Homo sapiens: one gene and its partners. The gene in region 7 interacts genetically with the main gene of each other region. Each region holds a gene or a part of one and is shown on either strand. Other genes may lie near its edges. The genes, in order: HNF4A, CPAP, STAT6, KLF13, STAT1, SMARCA4 and CREBBP.

Evidence for each region.
Region 1: of CREBBP (region 7) and HNF4A, changing one enhances a phenotype caused by changing the other (phenotypic enhancement), as found in Homo sapiens cells (one study listed by BioGRID).
Region 2: of CREBBP (region 7) and CPAP, changing one enhances a phenotype caused by changing the other (phenotypic enhancement), as found in Homo sapiens cells (one study listed by BioGRID).
Region 3: of CREBBP (region 7) and STAT6, changing one enhances a phenotype caused by changing the other (phenotypic enhancement), as found in Homo sapiens cells (one study listed by BioGRID).
Region 4: of CREBBP (region 7) and KLF13, changing one enhances a phenotype caused by changing the other (phenotypic enhancement), as found in Homo sapiens cells (one study listed by BioGRID).
Region 5: of CREBBP (region 7) and STAT1, changing one enhances a phenotype caused by changing the other (phenotypic enhancement), as found in Homo sapiens cells (one study listed by BioGRID).
Region 6: of CREBBP (region 7) and SMARCA4, changing one enhances a phenotype caused by changing the other (phenotypic enhancement), as found in Homo sapiens cells (one study listed by BioGRID).

The regions. Positions count from the first base shown.
Region 1 is NC_000020.11:44,421,101-44,425,728, reverse strand, and holds part of HNF4A (hepatocyte nuclear factor 4-alpha), read right to left. Parts: intron 1,712-4,628; coding exon 1,475-1,711; coding exon of another isoform or gene 1,350-1,474; exon of another isoform or gene 1,086-1,349; intron 1-1,085. UniProt on the Homo sapiens protein: Transcriptional regulator which controls the expression of hepatic genes during the transition of endodermal cells to hepatic progenitor cells, facilitating the recruitment of RNA pol II to the promoters of target genes. Activates the transcription of CYP2C38.
Region 2 is NC_000013.11:24,905,256-24,909,883, forward strand, and holds part of CPAP (centrosomal P4.1-associated protein), read right to left. Parts: coding exon 4,535-4,628; intron 2,872-4,534; coding exon 2,763-2,871; intron 1,939-2,762; coding exon 1,836-1,938; intron 1,706-1,835; coding exon 91-1,705; intron 1-90. UniProt on the Homo sapiens protein: Plays an important role in cell division and centrosome function by participating in centriole duplication. Inhibits microtubule nucleation from the centrosome. Involved in the regulation of slow processive growth of centriolar microtubules.
Region 3 is NC_000012.12:57,104,355-57,108,982, forward strand, and holds part of STAT6 (signal transducer and activator of transcription 6), read right to left. Parts: intron 3,946-4,628; 5' UTR 3,925-3,945; coding exon 3,809-3,924; intron 3,390-3,808; coding exon 3,251-3,389; intron 2,961-3,250; coding exon 2,877-2,960; intron 2,478-2,876; coding exon 2,339-2,477; intron 2,227-2,338; coding exon 2,174-2,226; intron 1,986-2,173; coding exon 1,837-1,985; intron 1,246-1,836; coding exon 1,114-1,245; intron 986-1,113; coding exon 797-985; intron 460-796; coding exon 372-459; intron 238-371; exon of another isoform or gene 233-237; coding exon 110-232; exon of another isoform or gene 6-109; coding exon of another isoform or gene 1-5. UniProt on the Homo sapiens protein: Carries out a dual function: signal transduction and activation of transcription. Involved in IL4/interleukin-4- and IL3/interleukin-3-mediated signaling.
Region 4 is NC_000015.10:31,371,835-31,375,116, reverse strand, and holds part of KLF13 (Krueppel-like factor 13), read right to left. Parts: intron 3,108-3,282; coding exon 2,818-3,107; 3' UTR 1-2,817. UniProt on the Homo sapiens protein: Transcription factor that activates expression from GC-rich minimal promoter regions, including genes in the cells of the erythroid lineage. Represses transcription by binding to the BTE site, a GC-rich DNA element, in competition with the activator SP1.
Region 5 is NC_000002.12:190,968,715-190,973,342, reverse strand, and holds the end of STAT1 (signal transducer and activator of transcription 1-alpha/beta), read left to right. Parts: intron 1-2,625; coding exon 2,626-2,640; 3' UTR 2,641-4,194; downstream 4,195-4,628. UniProt on the Homo sapiens protein: Signal transducer and transcription activator that mediates cellular responses to interferons (IFNs), cytokine KITLG/SCF and other cytokines and other growth factors.
Region 6 is NC_000019.10:10,988,273-10,992,900, reverse strand, and holds part of SMARCA4 (SWI/SNF-related matrix-associated actin-dependent regulator of chromatin subfamily A member 4), read right to left. Parts: intron 3,585-4,628; coding exon 3,458-3,584; intron 1,752-3,457; coding exon 1,578-1,751; intron 1-1,577. UniProt on the Homo sapiens protein: ATPase involved in transcriptional activation and repression of select genes by chromatin remodeling (alteration of DNA-nucleosome topology).
Region 7 is NC_000016.10:3,723,998-3,728,205, forward strand, and holds the end of CREBBP (CREB-binding protein), read right to left. Parts: coding exon 3,721-4,208; 3' UTR 1,057-3,720; downstream 1-1,056. UniProt on the Homo sapiens protein: Acetylates histones, giving a specific tag for transcriptional activation. Mediates acetylation of histone H3 at 'Lys-18' and 'Lys-27' (H3K18ac and H3K27ac, respectively).

The DNA of each region.
Region 1 (4,628 bases), on a different chromosome or scaffold from region 7:
GAACTATGATTGCGCCACTGCACTCCAGCCTGGGTGGCAGAGAGAGATCTCGTCTCAAAAAAAAAAAAAAAAGGAAAAAAGAAAAGAGGGTCCACAATGGATCTCTGAGGTCACCCCTCACTACCACCCCCAGACCCAGTGTCTTGTTGTTTATTCTGTCCTCCTCATTTCAGTAAATTACTCCATCGTCATTTCTGCTACTCAAAGCAAAAATGTAGACTTTGTCCTTGACTCTTCCTCTTTCTCTCACTCCCTATGTCTGATCAATCAGCAAATCCTGTGGGTGTGGGCTCTTCCTCCAAATAGATGATCAGGTTTATCTTCACTGCTCCATTGCCAGGGTCCAAGCCTCCATCATCCATCACATGATTGGAGACAGTGACATTCTCAGGAATCTGCAATTCACTCTCTACCCAACAGAGTGGTTTGTTTGAAGCATTAGTCTGGGATGGGTGTGGCGGCTCACACCTGTCATTCCAGCACTTTGGGAGACTGAGGTGGGTGATCACTTGAGGTCAGGAGTTTGAGACCATCTTGGCCAATAGGGTGAAACCCTGTCTTTACTAAAAATATAAAAAAATGAGCAGGGCGTGGTGGCGGGCGCCTGTAATCCCAACTACTCAGGAGGCTGTGGCAGGAGAATTGCTTGAACTCGGGAGGTGGAGGTTGCAGTCAGCCAAGATTGTGCCACTGCACTCCAGCCTGGATGATTGAGGGAGACTTTGTCTCAAAGAATAAAAATACTTAGTCTGGTTTTCACTCTCCTTACAATAGTTGCAATGAGAATAAAATCCAAATTTCTGAAAAGGCTGACAAAGCCATATGTTTATGATTTGGTTTCTGCCCAATCTCCATCTTCACCTCCTACACGTCCTCCATCTCACAACCTTGCCCTTCTTTCTCAAACACAACACTCTCTCCTATCCGCAGCCCTTGAAGTAGTTTCTTCTTCTTGGAATATTCCTCTCTTGTCTTTTAAGCCTTCCATTTCCTTTCAGCCGTTAGGGTCTTAGCACAAGAGTCACCACTTCAGAGAGGTCTCCTGTGGCCTCCCCTATCTAAAGAGGATTCCTTTTCAGTTAAACTCTATCATATTACCTGTTTATTTCAAAATCATAAAATGTGAGGCTTTATATACACATGCACGCACATACGGGCATATACACAGATATCCACGCATCCATACATACTCACACACACACAGCCTCCCCGAGGGCAAAGATCTTGTTCTTTGCTGAATTGCCAGCACTTAGAACAGTGACTGGCACGTGCTAGGTTCTCGGTGCCTGAACAAATAGACCATTGCCTTGTTCCCATTTTTCTGGTGAGGAAACTGAGGCACAGACAGGTTAAGCAACTTGCCCAAAGCGGCACAGTGGGGAAGCCAAGGAGCTGAGGGGTGAGCTCACTGTGTGAGGCCTGTCTCCTGGGGAGTCCCCACTCCAACCCCGCCCCTCCTGGGCTTGGCACGGACCTCCCAGCAGCATCTCCTGCAACAGGTTGTCAATCTTGGCCATGCCGAAGAGCTTGATGAACTGGATCTGCTCGATCATCTGCCAGGTGATGCTCTGCAAGGTGGGCAGCAGCAGCAGCAGCTCTCCAAAGCGGCCACGCGAGTCATACTGGCGGTCGTTGATGTAGTCCTCCAAGCTCACCTGCACCTGGGAACGCAGCCGCTTGATCTTCCCTGGATCGCTCAGCCCCTTGGCATCTACAATGGAAGAGGGTGGGCAAGGGAGGGCAGCAGGGTCCAGCTGGAGCATCTGGGGAGTCAAGACCCAGATGTCCCCTGACTTGTATCACACAAGGAGTCTTCAGCAGTGTGGGCACAAGGATTCAGGGACCTCAACAACCAGGGTACGCCAGCATGAATTATGATTTCCTAGACACAGGCAGAAAAAGATTTCTGCCACATTTCCTAAAGCACTAAACCAGAAGAGAGGGGAATAGGAGATGGAGGGCGGGACTTGAGGAATGCATCCAATAAGCACCTAGCAACCGCCTCATCTTACACACGGGGAAACCCAGACACAGTGCAAAGATAGGACTTGTCCTGGGTCGCACAGCCAGTTGTTGGCAGAGCCACAATGGGAACTTGGGGTTTTGGGCCACAGTTGAGGTCCCCTCATCCAGACCTCAGCAGTTGCTGCTTCTACTGTGTTAGAATAGGCTCCCCTTCCCTGGTTCCTGCTTCCTATCACCTTAGGGACTCAGGTTAGGTTTCACCTCCTCCAGGAAGTCTGCCTTCTACCCTCCTATATCTGTATCCTGTGTCCCTCCTGTTTCCAAATCTCTGCGGCCCCTCCATCACTGCTGACCACACAGGATGTAATTGTTGTGCCATCCAACTGTGAGTTTGGCAGGGGCACGCGTATGTCTTATTTGCCATTTTTATTTTATTTTATTTTATTTTGAGACTGAGTCTCCCTCTGACCCCCAGCCTGGAGTGCAGTGGCGTGATCTCGGCTCACCGCAACCTCTGCCTCCTGGGTTCAAGCGATTCTCCTGCCTCAGCCTCCCGAGTAGCTGGGATTACAGGCACACACCACCACACCCAGCTAATTTTTGTATTTTAGTAGAGACGGGGTTTCACCATGCTGGTCAGGCTCATCTCAAACTTCTGACCTCAAGTAATCTGCCTGCCTCAGCCTCCCAAAATGTTGGGATTACAGGCGTGAGCCACTGCACCCGGCCTTTGCCTTTTCAAACTCACCACCTAGCACCATGCATAGTCAATATTTATTGAATAGGGCCAGGCATGGTGGCTCATGCCTGTAAGCCCAGCACTGTCAGAGGCCGAGGCGGGGGGATCACTTGAGGTCAGGAGTTTGAGACCAGCCTGGTCAATATGGTGAAACCCCATCTCTACTGATAATACAAAAATTCACCTGGCGTGGTGACACATGCCTGTAATCCCAGCGACTCAGGAGGTGAGGTGGGAGAATCGCTTGAAACTGGGAGGTGGAGGTCGCAGTGAGCCAAGACGGTGCCACTGCACTCCAGCCTGGGTGACAGACTATATATATATATATTTTAAAAAATATATATTTATATATAAATATATATTTATTGATAACTATATGTATATTTTTTGTTAGATGGCTGGATGAATGAATGAAAAAAAAATCAGTGAATAAATTCTAGATCCTTAGCCTAGAAAGGAACTTAAGCGGTCATACAATATTTAATCTCAACCTTCATGGAGGTAATGCATTTATTTCCTCTTTCATGGACAAAGGAAGTGGCAGAAAGAACATTCACCCACATTTCTAGTGGGCTGTCTCCACTGAATCATGCTTATTCATTAGTTCATTCAGGCCACACATGTTTATTGAGCACCTCCTGCATGCCAGGCCTTGAACTAGGTCCCCCGCCCCTTCAAATTGCTGGAGGCTGCTGCCTCTGACTCAGCATCAGTGATCCTTCCCATTTTGCAGAACAATTCTGCCAGTCCAGCCTCGTGTTGAGCACTACAGAGGATACAGGCTGGGCCAGGCTGTGGAGGGAACTAGAACTAGAAATCTCACCCTCTGGTAAGTGTGGGATAGCAGGTGGTAGGTAAGAATGTGGGCTTGAGAGAGAGAAATTGGGATTGACAGGTGGTCTGAAGTTCAAATCCAAGCTCTGCCATTTTCCGGTTGTGTGACCTTGAGCAAGTTAATCATGCCTCAGTTTCCTTATCTGTAAAATGGAGATAATAATAATTCCTACTTCACAGGTACCATGTTGGTAAGTAAGACAATCCACATAAAGTGTTTAAAAACAGCTCTTTAGGGAGCATTCAATACATGGGGCTCATCTTCCACTTCATCACTCTCTCTATATATAATATATATCACTATATATATATAAAATATATATCACTATATATAATATATATTATACGTAATATATCACTATATACTATATATATCACTATATATTATATATATATAATATATATTATATATATATACACATATATGTATTTTTTTGAGATGAAGTTTTGCTCTTGTTGCCCAGGCTGGAGTGCAATGGCATGATCTTGGCTCACTGCAACCCCCGCCTCCCAGGTTCAAGCGATTCTCCTGCCTCAGCCTCCTGAGTAGCTGGGATTACAGGCACGGACCACCACACACAACTGATTTTTGTATTTTTAGTAGAGACGGGGTTTCACCATGTTGGCCAGGCTGGTCTTGAACTCCTGACGTCAAGTAATCTGCCTGCCTCAGTCTCCCAAAGTGCTGGGATTACAGGCGTGAGCCACCACACCCAGCCTTTTCATTACTATTATTACTAGAGGTAATCTATTTGCAGCGTGAAGGACAGTGCCTGGCACACAGTAGGTCCCCTCTAACATGTAAGCAGGGAAGGCAAGCAAGCCTCCAGAGTTCAGGCACCTTTGATGCTGGGAAACAAAAGCAAGTTTTGTACAAAGACTGATGACAAATGCATTCTGTATAAATGCAGGTGCAAAAGTCAGTGGACAGAATGGGGAGAGGAGAGCCAAGAGCCACAGGAGAGGGTAGGAATGCTTTTTCTTCATCCTGCAATGTGAAGGGTTGGGAGATACCGTCTACAGTTGATAGAACAAGAAAGGAAAGATAAAAGCACATAACTTGCAACAGAGACTCAAAAATAGCAATAAA
Region 2 (4,628 bases), on a different chromosome or scaffold from region 7:
GAAAGTTAGGATTTTAAGCATTCTGACAGCATACTGATTAATGTTAAATTTCTAACATTCTGATACATATTTTATAATGCTCTGACTCACCAGGTGGTTGGTCTTGACTTATGTTTAACTTGAGTTCATTTCCCAAGTGTGAATCTGACTTTGGTTTTGGTTTCAAAGAAGGAAAGAATTTCATCATCAGCTCCGATGTAGGAGGACTTCTGCTCCTCCTGGACTTGCTCAAGTCTTCTCCCCTCTTGACTGGTGCAATCTTCCTTTTTATTGTTTTGTCCAGGATACCTATTTCATTATTAGGGTAGCATGTCTGCGGCGTCCCATAAGTGGATTCATTCCCAAGAACAACATCATGGTTACACAAATTCTCTTCAAGGTCAGTCCAAGTTCTTTCATCATCAAAGTCCATTTTACTCAGACTTAGGGATGAGGATCTCGAGGGCTCAGACACTTTATGTTTTATGCTTTCCATGATAGACTCATCGCTACTGTAATCTTTATCAGACAAATCCAGATCAACATCTCTCCTTTTATCTTCTTGGGTCCTGGTGTCCTTAAAAGGCCCCTTATCATCACAGACTTGTGGGCTATCCTCTCTGCTGCTGATGCCCCTCTCTCTATCCTCAGTCGATGGTTTTATGGTAACATCAAGCTGTTCCTCAGAGTCAGTGCTACTGTCACTATTTGGAACACCTTCATCGTCACGTGCATTCCATTCAGTCTGATTTTCAGAAGTGCTCTTTTGGACGGCTTTCCTGATTTTACAAGGCTGTTCCCTCAATTCATCAGCTGAGGACAATGAATGAAGTTGTTTGGGTGCGACTTCACACTCACTCTCCTTCTCACGTGCAGTGTGGTCCAAATCCTCACTGCGGTTACAATGACTAATGGGATCTGCCGGATTTGTCTTCTGTGGCACAGCTTTGACAGGGGTGGAAGACATCCGGTGACCTTTGCAGATCTGTTGATCCCTTTCTAAGATTTTCAGTACAAATGAGGAATTACTAGAAAATGATATTTCATCAGCAGCTTGTTCTAAAAACAAAAATTCATCTAATTCCAAATTTTCCTTTTCCTTTTCTCGTTCCCAAGTCTCTAACTTTTTCTGAAGAGAAACGTCAAGAGAAGATTCAGACTCTTTCATGGTCTCCCTTATGGGGCTCTTAGCAGCCAGCCGGCTGGCCGGCCCTGTTGAAAGAGGAAGTCTGTCTTTACCTTGTGTCTTATTCCACCCTGTGCAGCCAGTATCGCAAGGTTTTGGACACTCAGTTACATTTTCTTTATTATTAGATGTGACTTTGTTTTCAAATTTGATCTGGTCTCTAAACTGCCCATCACATTTCTTCCCCGTCTGTATTTTCAATCCTGACGGAGAAAGACTTTTCCTGTTACTACACTTCAGCATTTTCGGCTTCTGACTGAGGGTGACAGAACCACTCTTGGTTCTAGCTTTACTGTCCTTTTTAAGGATAGGGTTGTCTGCACACAGCTCTTTATTTTTAAGAGCGGTTTTCCGCTGGAGTTGCTGTCTATCCATTTTAAACAGCGGCTGGTCCTCGGAAGTGCTCTGGTTAGTCACTAGTTTACTTTCTTTGCCTTTTTGAAACTTAGATTTGGCATTAGTAAATCTAGCTAAACCTTCTCCTCGTTTTAAAAATGGTTGTTTTGGTTTTGCTTTGATTGGCAATGGTCCTTCTGCTTCCTAAAATAAAAGAATAATATTTGAATTAATTTTGGTATATCCAAGTGATCTCAAAGTTATTTTTAAGGCAAATTATAGATAAATCTCTAAAGCCTTAGAATGATTTAATCAGAAGAGCACAATTGCTGACCTTCAGCTGTTTTTGCTTCAGTTCTTGCTCTTCCAACTGAATTTGTTCTTCTAAGTAATCTTCAAAGGTCTGTTTCCTTTCTCCAATAGCAGCTTTAATGGGCCTAATTAGAAACAGAAAGTTATTTAACATGCAAATCATAATGTGTGAATATTTTACACTTAGTGTGCCTGGTATAGAAACCCTTGACAACATGGAGAACTAACTTTTCCCAAAATCAGTGCCTCCCTTTGAGAACCTAACAAAAGCCACAATCCCTCTCCACACCTTAAAATAAAGAAACATACAACACTCTTCACATGACTTTGGAGTCCTAAGAACCCTTCTGAAGTCCATCTATCGACCACAGATTAACACATGGAGTAACATATTCATCAAATAACTTTAAAATGTATTTCAAAAATAGATCACTAAATATGCATTTTTTTAATTAAGAAAGGCCCTTAATGTGAGAACAATAATCAGAAAAGTCATTTTGTCCATATTATATTAAAAATTTTGAAATAAATTTTTAAAATAATCAACTTACTTAAAATATAAAATACTTAATCTTTGCCATATTTTAAAATTCTGTAACTAAACTGATAATGCAATTATAATTGATAAGTGACACCAAATGGGAGATGTCAATACTTAATTTTTCCCTTCTCCAAAAATAGGATTTAACTATTTGAGAGAAAATTGATTTTATCCAGATGTTTCTCTTAAGTGAAAAAGCTTCGAGAATACAATGTCAAGGCAGCTTGACATATCTCCTCAACCTCTTTTGTTGTTGACAGTACATAATAGGTTGTATCTTTAACCTTAAAAGCATAGTCAAGCAAAAACCAGAAAAATATAGATCTTTCAAACAAAGAAAGTGTTCAATAATAAAGGCTAGCTATTGTACTAAATAGTCACATTTCTCACTTTCAACACGAACAATACCTTTCTTCAATATTAGCCACTTCTGAGGAATCATCATGTTTTTGTAAGTTCTTATCATTTGCTTCCTGAATCTGTTCTGTCACTTTCTCCCAACATAAGATACTTTCTCCTGAGATAAAAATTAAGAACAATTTAGCTCAAGAAAAGCATATTAATGTCTTAAAACATGAGAATTCTACAAGTTACTATGCTAAAACATTTTTTTAATTAAAAGTAATGTATATCACAGATTTTACAACACTCAAGGAATTCTTTAATATAATTAAGAGAAACTACAAAACTCCAATTAAGACACTTGAGGCCGGGTGTGGTGGCTCACACCTGTAATCCCAGCACTTTGGGAGGCCAAGGCGGGAGAATCACTTGAGGCCAGGAATTCGAGCCCAGCCTGGCCAACGTGGCGAAACCCCGTCTCTACAAAAAAAAAAAAAAAAAAAAAAAAAAAAATTAGCCAGGCGTGGTGGCACATGCCTGTAATCCCAGCTACCTGGGAGGCTGAGAGCAAGCAGAGGTTGCAGTAAGCCAAGATGGTGCCACTGGACTCCAACCTAAGTGACAGAGGAAGACCCTGTCTCAAAAATAAAATAAAATAAAATAAAGACACTTGACATTCTTCAAAAGGTTAATGTCATGAGGAAAAAAGTGTGGGGTTTTCTAGAGATTAAAAAGGCTAAAGAGTTGTAAGAATCAAACGTAATACATGAACTTGACTGGATATGCATTAATTTGATTGGATCCTTTAAAAAAAAAGCACCTTTAAAAGATATTTTGGGATAACTGGGGGAATCCCAAAATGGACTTGAATATTAAGGAATTATCATTAATTTCTTTAGATACAATAATAGCACTGTGGTTATACAGATGAATGTCCTAATTTTTGCTTGATGCATACTGAAATATTTGGAATGAAGTAACAAGATACCTGCATATTATTTTCAGTGAAATGGTTCAGCAAATTATACACATATAGAAGTAAAGATAAGGATATACATGTAAAAGATATATATACACATACATACACTGACAAAGTAAATACAGCAAAATATTAACTGCTCAATCTAGGTGGTGGGTATATCAGTAATAACTGCAGTGGTCTTTCAACTTTTCTAGATGTTTGAAATTTTCCAAAATAAAAGGCTATGGAAACATGTTGTATAAAAAAGAAGAAAAACATATTTGAGCTTTCCACACCGATGAATTAACTCTAAATTAGGAACAAGGCATTATGGTTGGGTGCAGTAGCTCAGATCTGCAATCCCAGTACTTTGGGAGGCCAAGGCAGGCAGATCACTTGAGGCCAGGAGTTTGAGACTAGCCTGGCCAACATGTTGAAACCCCATCTCTACTAAAAATACACAAAATTATCTGGGCATGGTGGCACATACCTGTAATCCCAGCTACTTGGGAGGCTGAGACACAAGAATCACTTGAACCCGAGAGGCAGAGGTTGCAGTGAGCTGAGATTGTGCCACTGCTCTCCAGCCTGGGTGACAGAGCGAGACTGTCTCAAAAAAAAAAAACACGCCACAGGGGACAAAAAAAAATAACCATACAGAAAGAGCTGGCAGGGTAGCACGTGCCTATAGTCCCAGCTACCTGAGAGGCTGATGGGGGAAGATTACTTGTGCCCAGGAGATTGAGTCCAGCCTGAGCAACACGGCAACACTCCATCTCTGAAAAAATAATTTTTAAAGAAAAAACATGGAAAGGCTTCATCTTAGGACAACTTAGTAACACTATAAGCACAGAAGAGAGAAACATAAGTAGCTCACCTGTAGGATGGTTACGGTTTTCTTCTTTTAAATTATTTTTTTCCACAGGTGCTTCTTGATACTGTGCCTCAGAAAATAAATTAGGAGACGCACG
Region 3 (4,628 bases), on a different chromosome or scaffold from region 7:
CACATGGGGTATGGGGCAGTCACAAGAGGTGAGGGTCCAGGGCCCTTGTGTGTGGCATTGGAGGAGGACTCGGGGTCCCAGATTGGGGCAGGGCTGGGCCACGGTTCACCTGGAGCTGGATGGGGAGTTTGCCGGGGCCAAGTGTGAAGCTGGCAGAGAAGAGCACAGCGCACTTCTCCTCTGTGACAGACTCAGTGCCCTTCCGCTCACACCGCTTGATCTTCTTGAGAAGCTGTGGGTGGGGTGAGGGAGAGCAAGGGCGAGGTCATGAGGACAGAGACCGCTCCTCCTGGGCTTCCTGACATCCTCTCCAAGGAGAGTCCCACAGTCTCCTAGTGGTGCCCCCCTCACTGCACCCCAAAGCCCCTCACCAGGTTCTTGAACAGGGCAGAGCAGCAGTTCCCAGGAATGCTGTTCTCCAAGGGCACAGTGTTGTTGATGATTTCTCCAGTGCTTTCTCTGCCAGGGGAGGTCAGAGTGTGAACGAGCTCATCTCACTGTCGTCAGGTGTGGCGAGTGCATGGGTGAGTGTAGACTACCCACTGTCACCAGCCCTAAATCTCCATGTCTCTGTTTGGGTTCTTAAGGGAGGAGTCCCCATCTTGGCCAAATCATGATGCCCCCACCCCATTCCAGCCCTAAATGGGTCCCTCCCTTTCCTCTGCCTTGACCATTCAGGGTCTCCACATCCCATGGCCCTCCCTCCCCATCCCTTGCTCTTTTCAGTGCCAGCCCTCCAGGCTGCCTCCATCACCCTAACAGCCCTTCTCCAACCCCAGGTCCAATCCCAGCTTACGCTCCAGCCCCAGGACCCTGAGGCACACTCAGCTCCCGCGCCTGCTTCTCTGTCACCATGTCGGCCCTGACCAGCGGAGGCTTGGCTGGGGCCCCCAGGAACCTCAAGCCCAACAGGAATCGAACTCCAGCCTGGAACTTGGTCTGAGTCTTCAGTACCTGGGGGGGCTGCTTCTCCACCAGGAAGCAACTGGGAGTGAGGAGGACACAAGGGGAGTTGGGGGCTAGGTCCCTGCTGGTGCCCTCCCCACAGCTCTAGCCCCCTTCTTTTCTTCCCGAGGTCTGTTCTAGGCCAGACTGGGAGCTCCCGGGGAATACCTGGTGACGAGGGTTCTCAGGACTTCATCCAGCCGGCCAGTCAGCGATGCCCGGGTCTTGGGCTCAAGCTCCCCACCAGCCGCCCCTACCTCCTGCTGTAGCTGGGAATAAATGTCCACCAGGCTTTCACACCTGGGGCCAGGACAGTGGTCAGGGGGCACAGGATTAAGGCTGCTTGCTCCGGCCCAGACCCCCTTCCCCTATACCCAGGGAGAAAGGCTATCATGTGTGGAGAAGTGGGGTGGGTAGTGGGTGTGGCTGCAAGGCACCTGGGCTGAAGGGGGTTCTGTGATCTGTTGGCCTAGGGTCTGGGTGGGAGGTTCATTCTCAGTGCCTACACCCCCTGTGGAAACCCAGCTGCCTCTCCCCCGACGGCTCTTGCACCCAGGACAACTGCCACCACTTACAGTGCTTTGTGGCAAATTGGAAAGTGTTCCCACCCAATAAACCAAATGGAAAAGCCCTCCTATTCCTCTAGGCATGGGGCTTGAGGAGAGAAGCCTGGGTTGGATGAGTCCCCGCTTGTGCCCCTCCACTAGGCCCACTTGTACAGGATGCGACCTGAACGACAGTGTGCACAGCCCCGCTGGAACTGGCTTTTATGCATCTTGGTCCACTCCAAGGCCCTCCCGCCTGGCTTCTTTCTCTCACCTGTAGGGCCTTCAGCAGGGTCAGCTGCCCACCCCCAGCTTGCCCCCTCTTCCCCATCAGCCCTAGCCCAACCTCTCCTGGAGTGGGGCCAGGCTCTCCTCAAACGGTGCGCCATTCCCTGCCAGCTGCTGCTGCCGTTTCCAAATCTGGATCCTCTTCAGCACTAGGGCTTTGGCTGCCTCTAGCTCTCCAGTGGTCTCCTGCAGTAGCATGGCCAGGGCCTATGGGCAGAGAGGGGCCTGAGCCAGGGCCTCACGCTGCCTCCACACCCAGCTCCTGGGATACGGCTCTTTTTCTCACTCCTCTGGCATTCCCTTGCCCTACTTCAGCCTGTGTCTTTCTGAGGTCTAGCTTCCATCCCTCCAGCTGCACTTTGACCAAGGTCTCCACCTGTCAGCCCATTACTCACCTCACTTGGCCCAGTCCCATTAGCAGGAGTTTCTATCAAGCTGTGCAGAGACACTGAGGGTTGGGGGCAGAAATCAAGGGTGCAGACAGATTAGAGGTTCAGATAAGGTTGAGATCCAAGAGGCAACCACTCCTACACACTCCCCAGAACCACCCTGGCCCCCACCTTGGCCAGCCTCAGCCCCCTTCTGCAGGGCTTCTCGGAGAAGGTGGATCTCCCCTACTCGGTGCTGCAGCCTCCGCAAGCCTGTCTTAAACTTGAGTTCTTCCTGCTTCCAGTGGAAAGGCATTGGCAAGTGGCGGAACTACACAGGAAGGACAGATGCCAAGAAGTGAAACACTCTGCTCATCCCTCTATACCTGGCCTCCACTCTCTGCTCTGCAGATAGCGTTTTCTTGTTCCCCTCTCCCCTTTGGCAGTTCTTCCTGACCTTTTGGAATATCGTGGAGATAAGACCTTGCTCCTAGCAGAATCAGCTCCTTATCCCTTGCTCTGTTCTCCCCGGCCTCTTACCTTCAGTCCCTCATAGAAAGATTCCCTGAGCTTGACTTGGGGTTCACTCTGACCCTAGGAACCTCCTTTGGTCATTCCTGGGCCTAGAACACTGAGCCTTTACTGAGGTTCAAATTCTTTCTAGTTTGTCATGGCTCAGGCCAAAGTCTCAGGGGATTGAGTTGGGGTGGGAGGTGGAATATCACAATACCTGTTCCATAACAGCTTTTTTCTCTCCTTGAAGTATTTGTCTGAAAGTGGCCACCAGCTTCAGGGGGTCCCTCTGATATATGCTCTACAGAAATGAGGGTGGTAAACAGTGAGCTTTGCTCTTACCCATGTCCTTCAATCCCTCCAATCCCCAGGCCTGCATTCACACATATACTATAAGGAAGCACAACTGTAGACTCCAGAAGTTTTTGTGCATTTGCATGCTTTTAAAATCTAATTTGCCTGCTAGCTAGCAGTTAACCACAGGAACACCAATTTGCTTCCAGCATCCAACCAATTTTCTTCCAGGGCCCAATGCTCAACCCAGTTCAACCTCAGCCCCACCCAGCCTTGTCCCCTCCCCTCCTGCCCCACCTCAAGGGTGCTGATGTGTTGCAAGATGGTGCTCCCCTCCCCCTGCTCTCCCACCGAGGCCTGAAGGTGCTGGACAGTGTCTGAAAGTAGGGCACTAGCCAAGTTGCAGCAGAAGGCGTCGGAGCCGACCAGGAACTCCCTGCAGGAAGATCAGGATGAGGCTACCTCAGGCCAGGGCTTCCTCAGCTCTCCTGACCCTTTACCCCACAGCCAAAAGCTCAGCAGTTCCTTTCTCGCTCCTTATTCTCCATCTAGGCCCTCTGTAGCTTTCACCCATGCGCCTTGTTTCCCAGTCTTCTAGCTGTTATGAGAAGTGCCTTTGTCCCAGCCCAAACCCCCCTCCTCTTCGGCTCAGCCTCCTAAGAGATGGGGTCTCCATCTGTCAACATTCATAGCCTGGTCTTGATGGGGCACAGACTCCCTGCTAAATCTAGGTCACTACACATGGAATAACAGGTCTCAAGTTCTGAATCCATGGGTGAGGGGAGAAAAATCTAAGGAGAAGGAAGATGAGTTAGGGAAGACTTGGGGGACCAGCAGGGAGCAGCCAGGACTCACCAGGGCTGGCTCTCCAGCCAGTCACCCAGAAGATGCCGCAGGTGTTGGGGAAAGTCGACATAGAGCCGCTGCACTTTTTCTGGGGGCATCTTGGAGACCAGACCCCACAGAGACATGATCTGGGACTTGGAGGTTGCCTGGAGGAGAAAAATAAGGCCACTCTGAGGGGTGCCCAAGAAACTTGGCCTATCTCCTGGGGCAGCCAGGGACCTCCCATAGATAGCCCTCCTAGGGACCGTCCCCACCACCACTCATGGCCAGACCACCTTAAACCAGGGGCATCCTGAGTCAATGCCTGAGATGGGGGTAACTCCTTCAGTGATAGACACAGGGGTGGGAAGAGCTGAGCTGTAGCCAGAGGGATGGGGAGGCAAAGGGAGACAGGGCAGTAGAGCGAGAGCTCTCTTAGAGTGGCAGAGGATTTAGTTGCAGCTCTAGACCTGGCTCTGGTTCTGTGGGCAAAGAGCCTTCCCTTTGTGGGCTTCGATCTTCTCATCTATAAAATATGAGTGTTAGATGAGTGGAAAACTTTCCAAACTTTTTAAAGCGGTAGGCAATGTCAGCTTTTAATCTGTGGAATCTCAATTACATAAAAGGTACGAAACCGAAGATGCCCTGTTGAAAGCAAGCATGGAAAGCCTGAAACTCGACTGCTTCTACTTCCCTCTCCCCACCTCCTGACGCCAAAGGCATCCCTAGACAAACCTCTCAAAATTCTAGGACTCCATGAGATAATTTGAAAACCACAAGGCTCGGCCAGGCGCAGTGGCTCATGCCTGTAATCCCAGCGCTTTGGGAGGCCGAGGCGGGCAGATCACGA
Region 4 (3,282 bases), on a different chromosome or scaffold from region 7:
AGGATTTCTCTCCTGGTGCCCTACCCCCATTTCCCAGTCCAGGCCGGGGCCTAAGGACCGCACCCTGCCATTAAACGAGAACCACTTTGGGAATGAAGACACGCTCTTATGCCAAAAATAGCCAACGCCTGCATATTTCTGTTTTAAGGCAATGTTACCCTTCCATCTATCAGACGGAACAGCCCTGGGTCATTTAAAGGAAAAATTAAATTAAGTGCTCTCTTTGGAAACAGCCAACACCCGCTTCCCTCCCCCACCCCCCGCCCTGCTCTAAAACAAACCAGCTCTTCTTTTTATTCCAAGATGACTAGGTTTAGAGTCCTATCTTTTCCTTCCTATGTGCAGACAGATGTGGAGCTAGAAAATCTCCTTCCGTGACACCCTGGGCAGATCACAAGGACGTCTGACCCCTCCCTGGAGAGCACTTTGCCAGCCTCCCAGGGACGGGCCACTCCCTCTCCCTGCCTTGGGGAACGGTGGACGGTGAGTGCACCAAAGGACTTTGGAATAAAATTCCTGAACCTGGAATGTGAATTCCTGAGACATAAAATGTATTCAGAGTGTGGCTTTCTCTGCCTCACACGAAAACAACTTTGGGAGGGACCTCACTTTGGAACTGGGCATGAAGATCTTTGCACCACAAGCACCCAGGGCTCTCTTCTGTCAAGGTCCCTACCAAATATTCCACTCTCTCTCCCAGACCCAATGCAAGCAGGGAGGTCAGAGAGCCCCAACACAGCATGGCAGCCAGAGGGACCAGCTCCGCATCCAACCAGAGTGGAGGTGACCCTCTCCCTGCCAGTTCCCACCACAGCAGAAACAATGCCACTGCCCAATTTAGGGTCCATCGGTCTACCTAGAAGTCACCACCACGCTGTCGGCCAATCCCAGCTGACACACAGTGGTAAGAAGCGGGCACCTGACGGCATACTGTGCCTGAGCAGCTGCTGTGGACAGAGCGTACCTGTCCACTCTGGAGCCAGCCAAAACAGTGACCATCAGCTGTGGGCAGTGGCTAGGCCTGGGTCCTGGGTTTGTGCTGCACCCCATAGCATGGCAGGGCTGAGTAGAAGCAGGATGGCCACAACCAAGGCACGCTAGGCCCAGGAAGCCCATCTGTGGCCCTCTGAGGTCCCAGGGCCGTTCCTTTGCATCAAAATAGGTACTCATCAAAACAGGTATCTCTGGCAAGATACCCTGAGTCCACCCCAATCCCCCCACCCCCCCCAACACACGCGTGTGTGCTCACGCGCGCACACACCCACACGCACGCACACACTCTGTCCTGGGCCCTTGTATTTACAGGCCTCAACTCTCAGGAGGAAGGGAAGGTGATACCTGGGCCACAAGCCTGGGTCAACACTCCAGCCATCTGCAGAGGAGTTTGCTGGACCACGGCTTGACTGACCCCCGCCCAGGGCTCGAATCCCAGCCCAGGACCCAGCTCTCTGCTCCTCCTCTCCTGCCAGGAGAAGGCCGGTGATGGGGCACTGGAGCAGCCCCACCAGCTGGGTGTGGCCTGGAGCCTCCAGGCAGGACAAGGAGAAGCAGGAGGAAAAGGGAGGAGGAGTCCAGGGGAAACGGAGAGGCTGGAGGTTTGCTAAGTCTGAGTTGGGGACATGGTGGGTCTGAGAAAAGTGTTGCCCGCAACTTTCTATCTGGCATTCCCTGCGGAGGAAATAGAATGCGCGCTCTCCGACAGCATTTCCTGTAACATCCGCGCCACTCCTGAAAAGGTCCAAGTCACAATGTTCCGGTCTCTTGCTACAGAATGGTCTCTGTGAAGCATGGTGCGCTGCCACATGCACAGCCGCTCACACAGACCCTCTGATGAGGAGGCCCCATGACCTGCCCACTGTTTCCAACAAAAGTGCCCGTGCGGGCAAACTCGGAACTGGATGTGCCACCAGGAATTTCTAACATCTTTTTAGAAGACCAGAATTCCCCATCAGAGGCCCAGGTATAGTAGTGACAGGGTCCTGCATGCCTTCTGCTGGGACACGGAGAAGCGGAGTCCTGGCAGGTGTGACCCCGGCCCCTGCCTCGGAGGTCGGACGGTGCAGTGCTACGCTCAGCCAGGGCTGGCATCTCTGCTTCCAGTGCTCCCTAGCGCCGTAGGAGAGGGCTCCTGAAGGCGGGGTGTGAGGCAGGCAGGGTGCAGAGGGCTGAAGGCCCCCTCCACTATCCCCAAGGTGGAGTGCTCCTCCAGCCAGGGACAGCTTTAAGGCATCCCTCTGCAGGGGCCTGTCTCAGAATCAGCTGCGTTGCAAGCCCAGCCAGGCTCGTTGGGCAGAGGCCAGAGACTGGGTTGGGGGCTGGGCAGGAAGAGGTCAGGCCAGCTGCTTAGGAATCTGCCCTGGAGGCACAAACGTCAGTGAGCACATCTGCTCCCAACAGACCCACAGGCTGGCCAGCCAGCCAGACGCTGAGCTCCACCAGACTGGCTGGCCTGCTCTGTCCCCAGCGTGTTCCCGAACCTAACAGAAAACTCCAGAGTGCAAATCTATGTACAGAGTAAGGCGGCAGGAAGGGGTGTCCTCACTGACCTCGTGAAACGTGTCCATCCCTGAGAAAGGGGGTTCAACAACGCTGAATCTCAACTTTGTGGGTGTATCTATTGTGCAATTTGGTGGGTGGTGTTTTTTGAAATTTTTGTGTTTTTTTTGTTTTTTTAACAAATTTACTTTGACACCTGAGGTGAAAAAAATTGTTTTTTCGTGGACTTTGCATCAAGTTCTCTCTCTTCTTTCTTATTACAAAAGGAAAGGCCAGGGACTCACGAGGGGGTGGGAGCGGCTGCTCATGGCTGTGGCGGGCTCAGGGCGAGCTGGCCGGGCTGATGGTGGGGCTGCTGGCGTCGGAGCGGCTGTAGTCGCTGAGGGAGCCGGTCCGCGAGCCCCCGCCGCGCCGCTGCAGCATTCCCGGGTGGAAGTTGGCGTGGCGGCGCGCGTGCTTGGTCAGGTGGTCGCTGCGCATGAAGCGCTTCTCGCAGATGGGGCAGCTGAACTTCTTCTCGCCCGTGTGTGTGCGGTAGTGCCGCGCCAGCTCGTCGGAGCGCGCGAACTTCTTGTTGCAGTCCTGCCAGCTGCAGGCGAAGGGCCTCTCACCTGTGGGCACAGGGGCAGAGCATCAGTATCCGCACCTGGCCCCGCCTTCACACCCTCTCTGGGGAAGGGCCCGCAACACCCAACACCCTGGTCTCTCAACACCCCTCCCACATGCCCCACCTCCAAGAGCTTCTGTGACAAATCCATCAAGGCAGAGATGAAGGTGGGCCCCTGC
Region 5 (4,628 bases), on a different chromosome or scaffold from region 7:
TATGTAACTTGACTAAGATCAAGCAGTTAGTAAATGGTAGAAAGAATATTTGAATCTACCTAGTGAGTCTCTAGTGCATGCTTTTGTCCGGTATCCTGGAAAGCCTCCCACAAAAAGCTAATCTTTGCCCCATTCAAAACATGCACCCTGAAGAAGCTGTTTGTACAGGATTGGGTTTATTCTGTTATTAAGACAAAGGCATCATGGCCTTTGGGTGAGAGGCCCGTATGTGTTTGGGATTTGGCAATCAGCATTCCATCTCTGTCATCACCATTATTGAGAAAATAGATGGATTGGTTCCCTCTCTGCAGTCCTGTGGAGCAGTTGGACTGCTCTCTCTGCTCTCAGGATGATACTGTGAGAACAATTTAAATATGCTAAGCACATGTCAGGAAACAGTTTTGTGGTCTTTGGACACTCGCTGTAGCCATTCCGTTCCATTTCAGGTGATTTTATTCATTTCATTTGTAGAATAAAATAAATCCATTTCACACACACACACACACACACACACACACACACACACCCTCTATACACCACTAAAGCCTCCCATTAAACCCATAGAAGACTTAAAGAGCTAAAAGAGGCTATAATATAAAAAAAAAAAAAGAAAAGAAAAGAAAAAGAGTTCATAATATAGGCACGGCACTGGTTAGACAACGGTTGAATCAGTCTCTAAATTGGGTTGACTTCACAATGGTTTGCTGTCCTGCCCCTTGGCCATGACTTCCATCCAGCATCTACTCTTAGAATCAGAGTGTATACTCTGAAACAGAAGCAGCTCTCCCCAAGCTGGCTGTCTTCTGCCAAGTCTGGAGGTTGCAGCTCTGAAAGAGGGTGGTACCAGGGGCCAACGCCTGGTGCAGCCTCAGGAGCAACAGGACCATAGGCTCCTGAGGAAATTGTCCAAGAGAGCCAGAGCACCAGTGTTCTCTGCAGTATGACTTGGGCATTTGTTTAGTCTGGATTTCCTGTGTAATCAGTGTTTTCCTCTGGGACTGTAATAGAACCAGTCTACTCTCCAAGAGGCCTTTAGCCAAAGCTCATAATGATAGGACTAGCTATTAATTGTCTACTACTTTCTGTCTACTATACTAAACATTTTACGTATGCCATCTAATTTAACAAGCCTATCTGCTAGGTACTATTAATCCCCTTTTGATAGATGAAGACTTTGAGATTTAGAGAGGTTAAGCCACTTGCCCTGGTCACGCAGTGACAGGATCTGAATCTGGGCTTCCTCTCTTCCTCTATCTATCTATCTCCCCCTCCCTCCCTCTCTTTACCCCCACGGTCCACCCTATTAAGCACACATTTGAAACATCAGCCAGGCCGGGCGCGGTGGCTCACGCCTGTAATCTCAACATTTTGGGAGGCCGGGGCAGGTGGATCACCTGCGATCAGGAGTTTGAGACCAGCCTGGCCAACACGGTGAAACCCCATCTCTACTAAAAATACAAAAATTAGCCAGCCATGGTGGTGTGTGCCTGTAATCCCAGCTACTAGGGGGGCTGAGGCAGGAGGATCGCTTGAACCTGGAAGGTGGAGGTTGCAGTGAGCCAAGATGGTGCCACTGCACTCCAGTCTGGGCAACAGAGGAAGACTCCGTCTCCAATTTGAAAAAAAAAAAGAAAGAAAAAGAAAAGAGAAACATAAGCTAGACTGAAACATAGGGGCAACACTTTCACTGTGCTTTTCAATCCAAAATAATTTTCCTAAGAGCCCACTATGTACCACACACTATTGAGCACTTGGGATTAAAAAAAAGTTCTCCAGAGGCTTTCCAGTCTAGTGCCATGTGTCTCAGTCTTGGTGCTACTGGTATTCGGGGCTTCAGAATTATTTGTTGGGGATTGGTGGGGTGGGGAGCTTTCCTGTGCTTCGTAGGAGGTTCAGCAACACCTCTGGCTTCTACCAAATAGATACCAGTAAGCACATGCACCCTCACAGCCAGATGGGACAATCAGCAATGTCTTCAGCCATTGCCAGGGGACAGAATCATCCTCGATTGAAAGCATCTGGTCTAAGGGGAAAGACCAGTGTGGAAGTCAGACAGGAAGTCACTGGCAGGCTAGTATCCTTTGGATGAACAGTTTACTTACTATAAGTTGTCCTGGTCAAGGCAGCTGGGCAGAAGGCACTGGTGGGGAAGGTGAAGGGGTTCTTAGTAATTCTGCTTCTTTAGTCTGTACCTGAAACACAGTCATTGATTTTACCCACTGAGTGGCCTTTAGGGGAAGTGTATCATTTCCCTCTCCTTCCTCTCTCCCTCTGGCATATGGCTCAGCATTTCCTCACCCGTTTCACATGAGCAGATTTGACACGTTGCTCTGTCCCCAGACTTGCATAACAGCAAAAAGCTTTATGCAGTCTGGATGGATTCACAAAATTAAGCCAGTGGGCAGCAGAGTAATAATCCGTCAGCTTAGGTGATATAAAAGGTCTTGATTAGCCCAGGATAATACATAGTACATGCTGAAGGCCCTCTTATTCCACGGTATTTATTTGCCATTGCAAGTATCTTCCTACTACTTCATTCTAGAATAGACAAGCAATGTTTAATGTATGAGTCTGCATTTCACAAGATCAGTGTAATAAACTTAACCACATTTTGTCTTTTTACAGATGAACACAGTATAGAGCATGAATTTTTTTCATCTTCTCTGGCGACAGTTTTCCTTCTCATCTGTGATTCCCTCCTGCTACTCTGTTCCTTCACATCCTGTGTTTCTAGGGAAATGAAAGAAAGGCCAGCAAATTCGCTGCAACCTGTTGATAGCAAGTGAATTTTTCTCTAACTCAGAAACATCAGTTACTCTGAAGGGCATCATGCATCTTACTGAAGGTAAAATTGAAAGGCATTCTCTGAAGAGTGGGTTTCACAAGTGAAAAACATCCAGATACACCCAAAGTATCAGGACGAGAATGAGGGTCCTTTGGGAAAGGAGAAGTTAAGCAACATCTAGCAAATGTTATGCATAAAGTCAGTGCCCAACTGTTATAGGTTGTTGGATAAATCAGTGGTTATTTAGGGAACTGCTTGACGTAGGAACGGTAAATTTCTGTGGGAGAATTCTTACATGTTTTCTTTGCTTTAAGTGTAACTGGCAGTTTTCCATTGGTTTACCTGTGAAATAGTTCAAAGCCAAGTTTATATACAATTATATCAGTCCTCTTTCAAAGGTAGCCATCATGGATCTGGTAGGGGGAAAATGTGTATTTTATTACATCTTTCACATTGGCTATTTAAAGACAAAGACAAATTCTGTTTCTTGAGAAGAGAATATTAGCTTTACTGTTTGTTATGGCTTAATGACACTAGCTAATATCAATAGAAGGATGTACATTTCCAAATTCACAAGTTGTGTTTGATATCCAAAGCTGAATACATTCTGCTTTCATCTTGGTCACATACAATTATTTTTACAGTTCTCCCAAGGGAGTTAGGCTATTCACAACCACTCATTCAAAAGTTGAAATTAACCATAGATGTAGATAAACTCAGAAATTTAATTCATGTTTCTTAAATGGGCTACTTTGTCCTTTTTGTTATTAGGGTGGTATTTAGTCTATTAGCCACAAAATTGGGAAAGGAGTAGAAAAAGCAGTAACTGACAACTTGAATAATACACCAGAGATAATATGAGAATCAGATCATTTCAAAACTCATTTCCTATGTAACTGCATTGAGAACTGCATATGTTTCGCTGATATATGTGTTTTTCACATTTGCGAATGGTTCCATTCTCTCTCCTGTACTTTTTCCAGACACTTTTTTGAGTGGATGATGTTTCGTGAAGTATACTGTATTTTTACCTTTTTCCTTCCTTATCACTGACACAAAAAGTAGATTAAGAGATGGGTTTGACAAGGTTCTTCCCTTTTACATACTGCTGTCTATGTGGCTGTATCTTGTTTTTCCACTACTGCTACCACAACTATATTATCATGCAAATGCTGTATTCTTCTTTGGTGGAGATAAAGATTTCTTGAGTTTTGTTTTAAAATTAAAGCTAAAGTATCTGTATTGCATTAAATATAATATGCACACAGTGCTTTCCGTGGCACTGCATACAATCTGAGGCCTCCTCTCTCAGTTTTTATATAGATGGCGAGAACCTAAGTTTCAGTTGATTTTACAATTGAAATGACTAAAAAACAAAGAAGACAACATTAAAACAATATTGTTTCTAATTGCTGAGGTTTAGCTGTCAGTTCTTTTTGCCCTTTGGGAATTCGGCATGGTTTCATTTTACTGCACTAGCCAAGAGACTTTACTTTTAAGAAGTATTAAAATTCTAAAATTCTATTAATCTCTCATTAATAGTATTTAATATAAAGATTCTTAAAATTACTGACGTTATGAATTGGTTTGATGCTTTTCTCATGTACCTCAATCCTTATTTTAAAATAAGATCAATAACACTATTTTCCTAAATGTTGTCCTTACCTGCCCTACACATATTCAGAATTGCTATGGCAGATTAAGACATGTCAATGGAAGAGGTCAGAGGAGTAATATTATTGGCAACAGCTGTAATAGGTGCCATAAAAAGCAAACAAACAAAAGTATTTTGGTTCTTTGCGACCACAGCTGTCCCCAAATATACAGATGATTCAGCACTTAT
Region 6 (4,628 bases), on a different chromosome or scaffold from region 7:
AAATGTTGGTGGTCAGGAGCAGTGGCTCACGTCTGTAATCCCAGCACTTTGGGAAGCCGAGGCAGGCGGATCACGAGGTCAACAGTCTGAGACCAGCAGCCTGGCCAACATAGTGAAACCTCATCTCTACTAAAAATATAAAAAATTAGCCAGGCATGGTGGCAGGTGCCTGTAGTCCCAGCTACTTGGGAGGCTGAGGCAGGAAAATCGCTTGAACCCAGGAGGCAGAGGTTGTGTCGAACCAAGATCGCACCACTGCACTCCGGCCTGGGCAACAAGAGTGAAACTCTGTCTCAAAAAAAGAAAAAAACAAACAGGTGTGGCGGCGCACATCTGTAATCCCAACTACTTGGGAGGCTGAGGCAGGAGAATCCCTTGAACCCAGGAGGCAGAGGTTGCAGTGAGCCAAGATCGTGCCATTGCACTCCAGTCCGGGTGACAAGAGTGAAACTCCATCTCAAAAAAAAAAAAAAAAAAAAATGTTGGCCAGGCACGGGGGATTACGCCTGCCATCTTAGCACTTTGAGAGGCCAAGACGGACAGATCACTTGAGGTCAGGAATTTGAAACCAGCCTGACCAACATGGTGAAACCCCATCTCTACTAAAAATACAAAAAAAAAGTTAGCCAGGCATGGTGGCAGGTGCCTGTAATCCCAGCTACTAGGTAGGCTGAGGCAGGAAAACTGCTTGAACCCAGGAGATGGAGGTTGCAGTGAGCCGAGATTGCACCACTGCACTCCAGCCTCAGTGACACAGCGAGACTCCATCTCAAAAAAAAAAAAAAAAGTTAACAGAGATTGCTGTGTTGACTGTCTAGATTATTTTACACTACACCAATAAGATATTAATTATAGAAAATCTCTAGAAAATCTATAAATGACCAAATCAGCACAATCATCCCCAAATCCTTACTTGATTTTAGATTTGAAGATTTCCGTCTTACTGATTCATCTTGGGAAACCCTGAGTCAGATCAGTCCCTGCACTGCCCAGAACCCTCTATGGCTCCCACTTTACTCAGAGCAAAAGCCCAAATCCTCCATGCAGCTCGCAAGGCCCTGCATCACCTGCTCGTCACCTCCCTGCGCTCCCTTCCTCCAGCTCTCCCCGCCACTCACTCTACTCTGGCTCATGCAGGTCCTTGCTTTCCAGAGAAAACACAGGCACATTCCAGCCCCAGGGCCCTTGCACCTTCTCCTTTTCCCAGAAAGCTCTTTCCCACAGATCTGTGTGCCTCCCTTCCTTGGGGGTCTGCCCAGATGTCACCTCCAAAAGAAAGAACTCCCCCAACATCAGTTCTACAACAGCCCGTTCCTTCCTCTCTATCCTGGCTTGATTTTTCTTTGTGCCCTATCACCTTCCAGACGTGCTACGCGTGGATTTCATCACTATCTTCTCCCTACCATTGGGTTTTTACACCAATACACTCTCAGTACCTAGAATACTGTTACAATGAGCAAAAGAGAGAGACAAGCAGCATGTTTAGGAACAAAGCAAACACAGCCCCGTGGCAACCGCTGGACAAGCCAGGCAGCCAGGTGGGCGGGCTGCAGGGCCTTGGGGCCACCGGAGCGTACCTGGTGCTTCTGCCGGCGCTTGCGCTCCTGCTCGATCTTCTGCTGCTTCTCCAGCTTCTCAGTGATGCGGGCCTCGCGCAGGGACTGGCGCTTGCTGCGCTTGTAGGCCTTAGCATTGAGGGCTGTCTCCAGCGCTGTGTCCCTCCGCATGCACACCACCACCTCCTGGCGCAGCTGTAGGAGGGAAGAGGACAAGCCCGCGCACTGCACAGCTCTGTGGCATCCACAATGACAAACACGTATGGTGATGTCACATGCTTCACCGCTAAAGGAGCATTGTAAGTGCCTTACACACCCAGTCCGTGTGTGCAGGGGACGTCTAGCAGGTGCCCCCGGGCAGGGCGAGCACAGGACAGAAGGTGATCACTTCTGGACATCTATCCAGGGGGTCCTCTCGGACCTCCAGCTTGCCTCCCCTCTACCACACACACGTCTTAGGAGTCATTCAGAAGTATAACACTCTTGGCTGGGTGTGGTGGCTTAACGCCAGTAATCCCAACACTTTGGGAGGCCAAGGTGGGAGGATTGCTCAAGCCCAGGAGTTTGAGACCAACCTGGGCAACATGGAGAGACCTCACTTCTACAAAAACTAGAAGAAAAATTAACTAGGCGGCCAGGAGCAGTGGCTCATGCCTGTAATCCCAGCACTTTGGGAGGCTGAGACAGGTGGATGGCTTGAGCTCAGGAGTTCGAGACTAGCCTGGGCGACATGGCGAAACCCTGTGTCTATTAAAAATACAAAAACCAGGCCTGCGTGGTGGCTCATGCCTGTAATCCCAGCACTTTGGGAGGCTGAGGCAGGAGGATCACCTGAGGTCAGGAGTTTAAGACCAGCCTGGCCAACATGGTGAAACACTGTCTCTACTAAAAATACAAAAATTAGCCAGGCGTGGGGCACATGCCTGTAATCCCAGCTACTCAGGAGGCTGAGGTGGGAGAATCACTTGAACCTGGAAGGCAGAGGTTGCAGTGAGCCAAGATTGTGCCACTGCACTTCAAAAAAATCAGCCCGGCATGGTGGTGCACACCTGTAATCCCAGCTACTCAGTGGCTGAGACAGGAAAATCACTTGAACCACAGAGGCAGAGGCCACAGTGGGGTGAGATGGCACCACTGCACTCCAGCCTGGGTGACAGAGTGAGACTCTGTTTCAAAAAAAAGAAAAATATAGCCAGGTGTAATGGTGCACGCCTATAGTCCCAGCTACTCAGGAGGCTGAAGCGGGAGGAGGACATGAGCCTGGGAGGTCAAGTTTGCAGTGAGCTGTGATCTCTCCACTGCACTCCAGGGTCTAAGCACAGTACCCTCAGAAATAGACCCATGCAGGACAGCACGTGGTGGCTCATGCCTGTAATCCCAGCACTTTGGGAGGCCAAGGCAGGCCGATCATTTGAGGTCAAGAGTTTGAGACCAGCCTGGCCAATATGGTGAAACCCTGTCTCTACTAAAAATATAAAAATTAGGCATGGTGGCACACGCTTGTAATCCCAGCTACTTGGGAGGCTGAAGCAGAAGAATTGCTTGATCCCAGGAGGCGTTGGTTGCAGTGAGCAGAGTTTATGCCACTGCACTCCAGCCTAGGTGATAGAGCAAGACTGTTTCCAAAAAAAAAAAAAAAGGGAAAGGGAAAGGAAGAAAGAAGCCCATACAAGTCTGCTTTGAGGCGGCAAGTGCTTTAGGGTAGTGAGGTCCACGTCCCCAGCACTGCGCAGGCCGTAAGAGGAAGGCTCTGCAGTGATTGAGTGCCCATGGATGGCCACGGCTGCTTTTCACAGCCCAGGCAGGTGTAATACTAGCCAGGCAAGCCGTATTTGGAGCCTTAGCAGCAGTGTTGGTGACAAAGGCCCTTTTCGGAAAGCTGCGGCCATGCCAGCACCCACCTGCCTCTGGAAGTTCAGCAGCCTGAGGGCCTTGAGCTCAATGGTCGCTTTGGTTCGCAAATCCCCGGCCAGGGACCCGGGAAGGTTTTCAAGTTCCTGAATTCGGTGTGCGATGCGAGCCTGCAGCCTGGGAGCAGAGACAAGGAGCAAAGGCGGTGAGAGGGTTGCCAGGGCACCCAGTTACAGCTGGAGCTGCAGGGGACCCATCCCTCGAGAGAGGCAGGCACTAGTCATGAGGCAAGAGATGCCTCAGAAGAGGATGCTGGCCGCAGGGCACAGCAGAGAGGGAGATAGCCCGGGGCACTCCTCAGGACCGGGCCTCAGGGGACAGCAAACAAGATTCCTGATAGACGCGCCCAGGTCATGCCTTTTCAGTGGTGTGAGCCAGGTTCTGGCGTCAGGCGGGCCAAGGTTTTCATGCAGCTCTGGCATGGATGAGGCGCAGGGCGGTGGGAATCTATTTCAACTGCACACCTCAGCATTCTCACCTCAAAACTGAGGCAACCCCTCGGAGTGACCCTAGAGGCTTGGTCTGAAGGTTACGAAGGTTACATGCGAAGGTTATGTGGGCTAATTCTCTTAATCAGTCTTTCTGCACATACTCATTGAGCACCAACTGTATGCCAGGGACCATTTTAAGTGCAGGGCCTTAGCACTAAACAAGAACAACAAAGCAAGGAACTCTCAGTCTCATTAGAAAACACAGGCCATAAAGGAGATTTAAAAAAAATAAAATATCCACTGCAATTCCAGAGAGTGGCTGGAAGTGACAGGAAGGGCCTCCATGAGGAGGGAACCCCAGCAATCAGGCCTGAATGAGTAGAAGGAGCCATGCACAGCCTGTGCAAAGGTCCTGGGGCAGGAACAAGTCTAACTTGTTAAATAAATGAAAAGAGGAACAGAGAGACTGGGATGGGTGAGGAAGGATGCTGGGCAGGAGTGGACATAAGGCAAAGCTTATTGGGCAGATAATTGAAGCTACAGGCAGGTTTTAATCCACGGAGTAGATCTGATATCAATCATAAAAAGAGAATTCATGCCAGGTGCGGTGGCTCATGCCTGTAATCCCAGCACTTTGGGAGCATCTGAGGTCAGGAGCTCGAGACCAGCCTGACCAACATGGAGAAACCCTGCCTCTACTAAAATAAATACAAAATTAGCCAGGTGTGGT
Region 7 (4,208 bases):
ATGTTTCTAACATGCTAGAATTTCAAAGATAGCATCAAACACATGCTCTGTAGAGAAAAACTCCACTGAACATCTGCAATTTTTTTTTTCTTTCTGAGATGAAGTCTCACTCTGTTGCCCAGGCTGGAGTGCAGTGGCGCGCTCTTGGCTCACTGTAACCTCCGCCTCCTGGGTTTAACCGATTTTCCTGCCTCAGCCTCCTTAGTAGCTAGGACTACAGGTGCACACCACCATGCCCGGCTGAATATTTTTTTTTTTTTTTTTTTTTTGAGACAGAGTCTTGCTCTGTCGCCCAGGCCAGAGTGCAGTGGTGCAATCTTGGCTCACTGCAACCTCCACCTCCCGGGTTTAAGTGATTCTCCTGCCTCAGTCTCCTGAGTAGCTGGGATTACAGGCGTGCGCCACCATGCCCAGCTAATTTTTGTATGTTTAGTAGAGACGGGGTTTCACCACGCTGGTCAGACTGGTCTCGAACTGCTGACGTCGTGATCTGCCTGCCTTGGCCTCCCAAAGTGTTGGGATTACAGGCGTGAGCCACTACACCTCGGCCAATTTTTTGTATTTTTTGTAGTAGAGATGGGGTTTCACCATATTGGCCAGGCTCGTCTCAAACTCCTGACCATGTGATCTGCCCGCCTCAGACTCCCAAAGTGCTGGGATTACAGGCATGAGCCACCAAGCCCGGCCAGCACCACCTACAATCGTTTTTTTGAGACAAAATCTCACTGTTGCCCAGGCTGTAGTGCAGTGGCACGATCCCGGCTCACTGCAACCTCCGCCTCCTGGGTTCAAGCGATTCTCTGCCTCAGCCTCCTGAGTAGCTGGGATTCTAGGCGCCTGCCACCACACCCGGCTAATTTTTTTGTATTTTAATAGAGATGGGGTTTCACCTTCTTGGCCAGGCTGGTCTCGAACTCCCGACTTCATGATCCACCCGCCTTGGCCTCCCAAAGTGCTGGGATTACAGGCGTGAGCCACCGCACCGGGCCCGCATCTGCAATCCTATAATGACGAGCCGTTGAGCTAACTGTAAGTCATTAGCCAATCTGAACCATCTTTGAATCCAAGTAGTTTTACCATCTTTTATTATAAACACCATCACATTTCAAGTTTCCTCTTTTTGATCACAAATATAGGACTTTTTCTTCTCCTCTTAAGTATACAGCATGAGACACAGCGTTGGGGCTTTCCAGGTTTCTTACAGAAATTTCCTTACGACAAACTTAGGGTTAGCATCCACAGACCATGCTCTCGGTCACATCCTTCGACATCTGGATTGCCCAAGACGGTTGCACAGGATGCAGACTCCAAAGAGGATGAGGTTGGTACATAACGTTTTGAATTCCAGGATAACCTGAAACAGAGGCCCCTCCACTGCCCACATTAAAAGGCTGCACAACCAGGAGGGCGCCACTTTCTGAGTGTGGGCTTAGAGCTGCTGCTCTCGGGCTCTAGCCCCACTTCTTGTTTGAACACATGGCTCAAGGTTTCCCTACGGGTGGAAAAGATGAAGAGGACACTGGAGGTTAAGAACCCAGCAGGCCGAGCAGTGGCAGCAATCTCCACCGGAGGCCCGGCCTGTGCTTCCCCTCCTGGGATGGGGTGAATGGGGGCTGGTCAGGGGTGCCAGATGGTGGTCTTATTTTTACTTGAATTATTCTGCATTTTATAACTCAAGGTTCAAAGCTCTGTGCTAAAACTAGATCGGACCTTTCCAACTTCTTAGAAAGGTTCCTCGAATTCAGATTCCCAAACCAAGTATTCAGCTATTTAAAACCTATCTGTGAATGTAAGGGCCCAAACGGAAGCTATTTGGGGCGTGATTTCTAAAATTACCATCACCCCCACCTAGACCAGCCTTTGTTGGGGGACTAGGGATAAAGTGGGTTCTCTGGGTGCTGGGGGTGGTAGACTTAGGGGATGAACTTCAGCTCCCCTGCCCATGGTCCTCCTCTCAGTTTTACGGTTTTTGTGAACTTGTCTCACCCACTCAGTAAGGGAGCCTGGAACTGGACTCCAAGGGAGGCAGGACCATGTGGCTAAGTGCAAGTATCCCCCGAAGTGGGGGACCTTTCTCACTGTAACAGGGACCGGAGCTGGTGCTCCAAGGTGTCTGTCCCTCAGCATTTCCTCAAACGCCACACGGGACATGCTGCGCGGCAGCGGCAGGATTTGGGGGGAAGTCAGAAAGCACCTCGCGAGCCTGGAGCACTCTCTGCCTCAGATTCTGGGAGTCGTGTACGGGGGGGGGGAGCCGCCTGAACACGGGAAGAAGCGCCGCCTCTGGGGGTGGCAGCTACGACGGACAGGGAGGATGGAGGAGTGGGCCAAATGCAGTTTCAGACCAACTGACGACCCTAACTGTGTGAGCGACAATCACCTGTGAGCCTCGAATGTGTGGGGCCAACGCTGAGCCGCCCACCTCAGTCGCCCACCTCAGTCTCCGGGAAGAAAAGCCTCCGGGCGGCCGCTAAGCCTGGGCCACAGTTCCCAGCCACCACCCACGCCGCCACAACCACAACCGCAGCCCCAGCCTCTCCGCTATGAGCGAACAACCAGAACCATGTCTTACAAAGAACAGACTCAAAAAATATATATAAATAAATAAAAACCTTAAACATTCTTACAGGGATCTTAAAGAACAGAATACATGTTAAAAACCTCAGTAATTTATATCAATTTTAAGCGGTACTTTATATACAATGGGGAAAAAACACATGCATAGTCCAAATACAATGTTGAAAACAGCATTTTCATAACAAAAAACCCCGAACACTAAGTGTTAATACCATGTACATGAATTCAAGAAGGACCACCCTTTTTGTCTGTTGCACACAGTTTATTTAACAATATGATATAAGAAATGAGTTGGTATTTTACCATTCTATACAGTGATTGAATCTTCTCGAGTTTCGTATTTATAGGAATTAGAGCGCTTGCATGATTTACACTAGAATTGCTTTTCCTCATTTCAAGTTTCACATAGAAGAAAGAAAAGAAGGCTTCTTCTCTAGTAACATTAGCATGGTCTAAGAGTGATCATCCCTATTTTTTGTCTAAAACCAGTTTTATCAGAGAAACAAAGCAACAATTTCTACATCTGCAAGACAAGTTTGGCTTCAGCCATTATGTATAGATAGATGTGTGTGGGTGTGTACGTGTGTGCACGCCGGAGTCAATTCCTATCATCCAGGGTAATACTGGGAGACGCCCACAGAGTTCACTATAGAAAAAAATCTTCCCGAAACATCACAAAGTTATCGGGATACATTATAAGCTTGCATTATTTCAGGAATCAGTTCTGAATATTATTTTTCTTCTTACTTTTAAACATAAATGTTTAAAGTCTTGAAAATACAAATAAAAAATATGAATATAATGAACTTGTTTTTCCCGTTAAAAAAAGGCATGAGTCACCAGCAATGACGACAAAAAGAATCCAAACAAAACCCCCCTCCCCCCAAACAAAAACAAAACGGAAAAAAAAGAACCCCCCCCACCCCCCCGCCAAAAAAAAACCAAAGAGAGAGACCAGATATTTAAATCAACTGGTTTTTAACAAAAAAATATATTCTTTGTATTGTTTCTTTAAACATCAATCCACCCTTCCATGGCTCGGAAGTCGCAGTTCCATCTAGGAATAAAAAGAACCTAGATGCCTGGATTTTCAGTACAAAAGGTCCAAGAACATGAAAGGGAAAAGGTGATGCTCTCACAATGCTACAAGCCCTCCACAAACTTCTCTAGCGTGTCCCCCGTGGTGTCCCCGACCAGGGACAGTTCGCTGGACAGCGCACTCCTGCTGGGGGTGTTCAGCTGGGGGAGCATTGCACTCTGTTCGGGGTTCCCCAAGTGTCCCTGATCTATGGAGCTGGCCATGGTGACTGCGAGTCCGGGGTGGGGGGAACCAGTCTGGGGTGAGACGTGGTGTGGCGAAGGCTGGGGCTGTATCCGTGGTGACGGGCTGGAATGTGGAGGCTGGGACTGGGGCCGTGGAGACTGGACAGGGGCTGGAGACCGCACCTGGTTACTAAGGGACGTGGCGATCTGCTGGCCAGGGAGATGCGAGGCCTGTGGCTGTCCTGAGAGCATGTGTTGCTGGGGGCTCATGGGGTTCGGCTGGCCTGGGGACCCAATCTGCTGCTTCATCTGCTGTTGCTGCAGAATCCGCTGCTGCAGGGCTTGCTGGATGTTGGGGGTGCTGTCTG